Linked DNA regions of Homo sapiens: region 1 is linked to region 2. Evidence: fine-mapped expression QTL. A gene starts in region 2. The other region holds a variant in brackets. All regions are shown on one strand. Distances are between the middles of the regions.

Region 1 (2,914 bases), 140 kb before region 2:
CTAAGTTAGTAGAGGAGAGAGGGTGAGAAATGATCTGAGAAAAGAGCTGCCCAGAAGTCCCTGGGTAGGGCACATAGTTTTGGTAACAGGGAAATGAGGAGAGGAGTAAAGGTAGATGGTCAAGGAGTGAGTGAGTGTAATGTTACTGGAGGAATTTCCCAAGTGGGGCCATGAGAAGCTGGAGGCACCATAAACTCATCACCACCTCTGTTTAGCTACAGGTGTCTACTCAGTCACTTCTCCCTGGCCTTACTCTTTTTATGAAGAAATTATGTACCATTTCCTCCTTCTTCCACTGGACCCTGCCTTTTCTATCAGCACAAAATGCTACAGATAAAACATTCTTTCTTGCCTCCCTTGCCACAGCATTTTTTTTTTTTTGAGACGGAGTCTCACTGTCGCCCAGGCTGGAGTGCAGTAGCACAATCTTGGCTCACCGCAACCTCCACCTCCCAGGTTCAAGCGATTCTCCTGTCTCAGCCTCCCAAGTAGCTGGAATTACAGGCACCCACCACTACACCCAGCTATTTTTTTTGTGGTGTTAGTAGAGACGGGGTTTCACCATGTTGGCCAGGCTGGTCTCGAACTCCTGACCTTGTGATTTGCCCACCTCGGCCTCCCAAAGTGCTGGGATTACAGGCATGAGCCACCGTGCCTGGCCATATCTTTATATTTTTAGGCAGCACAGTATGGTGGTTAGGAGCTCAGAATCTGGAGCCAAGTGACTCAGCTTTGCCACTTTCTTGCAGCATGACCTACACAAGTGCCTTAATCTCTCCCTGCCCCATTTCCTCATCTGTAAAATTGGATAACTGAGTTGTTCTCAGAATTAAATGAGTTAATATACATAAAGCACCCAGAAAATGGCATACATGATAAACACTCTGGGGGTGTACTCTATTAGTACTAACACTATTAGTATTAGCTTTCCACAGCTCTCCTATTGCCTTCTGAATCTAAACCTAATTTCCTTTCTAGCTCTGCCCCTCTTTATAACCTTCTTCCTCTTCTTTTCCATAAATGCTCCCTCATCTACCCAATCCTTCCACTTTAGGTTCTTCTAAGCTTTCTTCAGGTCCTCTTTTCCTAATCTTTCCAGATTTATTTCTTAAAGGAAGGTAATTAATTATTCTTAAAATCCTCCTGTGGATAACAAACACAGCCATCCATTAAAAACCCTAACCTTGGCCAGGCACGGTGGCTCATACCTGTGACCCCAGCACTTTGGGAGGCTGAGGTGGGCAGATCACCTGACGTCAGCAGTTCAAGACCAGCCTGGCCAACGTGGCAAAACCTTGTCTCTACTAAAAACACAAAAATTAGCTAGGTGTGGTGGCGTGTGCCAGTAGTCCCAGCTACTTGGGAGGCTGAAGCACAAGAATCGCTTGAACCCAGAAGGTGGAGGTTGCAGGGAGCCAAGATCATACCACTGCACTCCAACCAGGGCAACACAGTGAGATTCTGTCTCAAAAACAAAAAACAAAACAAAACTCAAAAAAACCCTAACCTCAAGGAATTCCCTTTCTTGT[A/G]GGTCCATTTAATTTTCCAAGGGTCTTATGACCCCTTGGAAAGGGATAGAATCTATTCAGTTATAAGATGAACATACCATTGATGATCATGTGAGCCAACTCATCAATGGGCTGATGCGAAAGCAATACAAAGGCAGCAGTGATGGGACCACAGGAGACGCCAAGGGAAGCAGAGCTCACCTGTGATCCAGCCGCAAGAAGTGCAGCTGCCATCTCCCAGTCTCCAGTGTTCCCCTCCTGGGGAATTGCAGGAACCCAGGGAGCAGACTGAGCTGATAAGGAGAGAGAAGAAACATTAGAGAATAACGATCTACCCTTTCTCAATGGGGCCTGGGCCCCATTTTAGAGAGGCTTAAGGGTCACAACTTCTGTATCTATGCCCATTGGTAAAACTCAAATGCATAAATGTAGATGAGAAGGCCATCACTCAAAATGTTCTGAAAGGGTATCAGATGGCTTTTAGTTAGACTAGCTATAGTTTGAATTTACAGTACTTGAATGTAATTTTCATCTAGTAAATTACATCTTACTGAGTGGGTTATCCAACAGTAATCAGGTTGCTGTCACTTCCTTCATCTCCCTCATTCAGTATCACTAATTATGCATTTGCATGTGGAGGGAGTAATTATGAAGAAACAAGAGAAGCCCAGTTGCATGGTTTGCTGAATTCAGGAGCCTATTCTGTACCTGTGACCAGGGCTGAGAAAGAATGGGCTGGTCCTGGTACAGGTTATGCTATTTAGTCCATGGCAATTTGGAGATTTTTAACCCTACTTTTGGAATAAATATTAGGAGACTATGCACTGTGCTTCCCACACACTCTGTGAGTTCTCACCCTTCTCCTGAAGGGACTGTGGCTCCTCTTCAAGGTCACAGCACAGGTGCTCCAGAGGTCCTGGTACTGTTCTCCATGGCCGCTCTTCCTGGCTTCCCCTTTCCACCTGGGGCTCTGCTCCATCCAGCTGTACATTCATTGATTCCCATCCTGTCCCCAGCGCTGCTGTCTGTTCTGAAAGCATTTCTGCTGCAGACCCAAATTGTGACCTGGAACAAATTCATATCAGCAATGCCCATGAAAATGGGAAAGGAGTGATATTTCTAAGGGAGTTATGAAGAACAGGCCCAGGGATAATAGACAAAACTAGATAGGAGGAGCTTGCTGGAAGATGAACTTTAAAAGCTTGATGTGTTCCGATCAACGGAGCCTGCACCAAGCTTCTTGGAGGAACTAAGAAATTGGCAGGTGCTACGTAGCAAAGCCACTAACTGGTATTTTGTGGACCTCATTATAGAAACAGAATATACCTGAAGGTTAGAAGAAGTTCATTTAAAAAAAAAGAACTGTCCTGGAAATTCAAAGGCTATCCATTTAATTTCAAGCACAT
Region 2 (2,914 bases):
AGCAATATATCCTTGTAACAAACCTACATGTGTATCCTCTGAATCCAAAATAAAAATAGAGTTTTTTTTTTAAAAAAAATGACTTTTGGATAGCAAAAGACTTGGGGTGGTTTGAGAGAGGTAGGAATTGAGTTGGATTATGAGATACATCTGGCCATGAAAGGGTAAAAGTCCCTGTGATGTGAGATGATAAAGGGAGGAGCTTAGACTCCTTATGGAAACTGAGGTAAATAAAAAGGTAGATTATGATGGAAATGGCCCTGCTGGTCTCTTAGAGGGTGGGAGAGAGTAACCTCTAATCAGAGTCTAATTTGAAGCACTTCATGATAGTAAGAAGGTGGTGTGCAGAGAGGGTCCATGGTGGTCTCACTAGTAGCACCTGGAGCTCTAAAATCAAAACAAGGGATGGGACAGTATGCCTTTCCTTTAAAGTCTGCTAAAGACAGGTGGAGCGCCGAGCCAATGTTGACACCTCCATCTGTTGTACATACCCTGGCATTTTGTCGCAGGTTGCATGATTTGTGAGTCCTCTTTAGATTTTAGCCCTCTCCTTCTCCACTCTGCATTTCTGCATGAGGAGTTTTCCCACCATCACCTGGGCAGGCTATGGGACCTGAAAGGTACTATCTCAGGTCCTGTCTGCCTAAACACGCTATACCACAATTCCCACTTCACCACGACCTCCCCATGTAGGCACAGTGCTCTCTCTGAGGCTGCTCCTCCAGGGGTCTAGTTTCAAGGGAGAAGCTGGCCCTTGGTTCCTTCTGTTCTTAGATTTCTAGACATATTGGGATATTTTATATGCACCATCACCAAAAGGAAGCAGGTCCCAGAGTTGCACACCTACACCTAATGCCTCTTCCCTAATTTTCACTTCCTGCCTCCGTATTAAAACCCTATACTTTCTTCAGAAAAACTGTTTTCATCCCTTCTAAATCTAAATGGTTTTAAATCCATGATCATTCACAAATCTTTGGTGATTTTCTAGGTCAAAGACTTTGGGAATTCACAACAAAACCATTTCTCTCTGAAGGACCTAGCTCTTGAAATTGAAAGCCAGATTTCTCAGACCTGATTTTGAAATTCAAAGTAAAAACTGGATTCTTCTGGCCTCATTCCTTTCATCTCTAAGAATCAATGGATTTCCAATGCAATGGGTAGAAGGCAATGAAGAAGCAAAAATTCCCAGAAATTAAAATTAAAATCCCACAACATTATCCCTCCATTTTACCATTATCGTTTGGATTGAATGGAGCCTAGTGTGTGGCTGGGAGGGAAAGCAAGTTGTCCGTCTATGAGGTCACAGCTGAAGTCACAAAGTATTGAAAATGGCAAGGTTGATATGGGAACAGGAGGCTGTTGTGAGATGGGGCTCAAATAGGAAAAAGTCTAGGGGTGAAGGAGTGGGGCAAAGTGTAATTTGGGGAACCAAGCAGGGTAAGTTTCTAGGCATAATTGACCTCGTTCTTGACTGGGGCTTGGAGGCCAAGAAGGGTGGGAGTGGGAAAAGTGGGAGGGAAACTTCTCAAAGGAGGATTTGTCTCCTGTCTGGGCCACTGCCTATGAGCCCTTCTTCTCTACAAAGCACTTTAAGGCTGGAGCTGATGGCCCTCCATCCTGAAACTCCTCTATCCTTAGTTAACCATGAAAATTCTGACTGAGGTGGGAGGGGGTGGGGTATTTGACAATCTTGCATTCACTCTACACTATTTCCTGTCCTTGCCTGAACTCAAAGACCCTTTGGCCAATCCCCCATCCCCAATCTCAGCCAACTTATTTTTCACTTAGATTCTCTCTTTTTTTTTTTCGTCTACTTCCTCACTGCAATTTCTGTTGTTACTGACAAAGACTATAGGAAGATTTTACCCAGGGCAAATACTTCCTTCCTCTTACCCTCCTCTTACCTTCATCTTTCCTTATGCATATGTACATGCATATGCACACATACATGCACATATATGCAAGCACACACATGCACATGCACACTCACCCATTCAAAATACAAATGCTCCATTAACTGCTGGTAGTTCTCCACTGAATAAGCGCTTTTCTTCTCACCATGTACCTGCCTTCTCCGCATATTCATTTATGCCTCTCCAGGGCCTGGAGCTATCTCCATCTTCAGCTCCAGAGTCCTTGGTTTCTGTCTGAGAACAAATGGCACAGCATCCCTGCCAGGATCAGGAACAAAAGGTAGAAATGACCTCCAAGCAGCAGAGAAGGTAATGGGGCTAATGATGACCCTCAAACATCCTTAGATTGCTATACTCTATGGGAGAAGAACCAGGGCCTCCTGTCTTCTATGGCTCTTCATTTGGCTTCACTTGCTTCCTGGCTGAATAAGATGGGGACTTTCATGTGTCCTCCCTCTTCTCCATCTCCTTAATGAAAGAGATAATAGCAAATCTTTGTCATTTTAATTTAGAAATCAGGCATCAATTGCAATTCCTCTAGGGGTTGGCGGGGTATACAAACTAGGGACATTAATTTATTCCAGGATTGACTTTGCCTAAGTCCTTTATATCCTCTATAGTGTAAATCAAGGTCAACCATCTAAAATCAAGCTTCTCTTGGCCTACAGTGGAAAAGAGGGCTAGAATCTGCTGCTTGAGGCTAAATATGAGACCCAGGTGATGGTATCCATGAAGTCAGAAAAGAAGGAGGGTTTACTGTGAACTTATGGGTCAGGAAAGCTTCATAAGGAATCAGAACTTGGCTTGAGCCTTTGAACTTGCAGCAGATGTTTTGAGATAAGAGTTTGTAGAAATTTGGGGCTGGGTGCAGTGCCTCATGCCTGTAATCCCAGCACTTTGGGAGGCCAAGGCGGGCGGATCACCTGAGGTTGGGAGTTCGAGATCAGCCTGACCAATATGGAGAAACCCCATCTCTACTAAAATTACAAAAAATTAGCTGG

Evidence for each region. PIP is the estimated chance that this variant, and not a neighbour inherited with it, causes the effect. A credible set is the group of variants that fine-mapping cannot tell apart.
Region 1: its variant is the best candidate, but not a certain one, in a credible set for the expression of C12orf54 in tibial nerve (GTEx, PIP 0.55).

The regions. Positions count from the first base shown.
Region 1 is chr12:48,345,543-48,348,456 of GRCh38, forward strand. ZNF641 (zinc finger protein 641) reads right to left here. Exons shown (of 6, transcript NM_001172681.2): 2 at 2,365-2,573; 3 at 1,710-1,801. The coding sequence starts at 2,548. Among named protein-coding and RNA genes, the nearest start is that of ZNF641, 3.9 kb to the right of the region's middle. The variant A/G (reference allele first, on the strand shown) is at 1,530.
Region 2 is chr12:48,481,140-48,484,053 of GRCh38, forward strand. It overlaps C12orf54 (chromosome 12 open reading frame 54), which reads left to right and starts at 1,359. Exons shown (of 9, transcript NM_152319.4): 1 at 1,359-1,437; 2 at 2,101-2,222. The coding sequence starts at 2,158.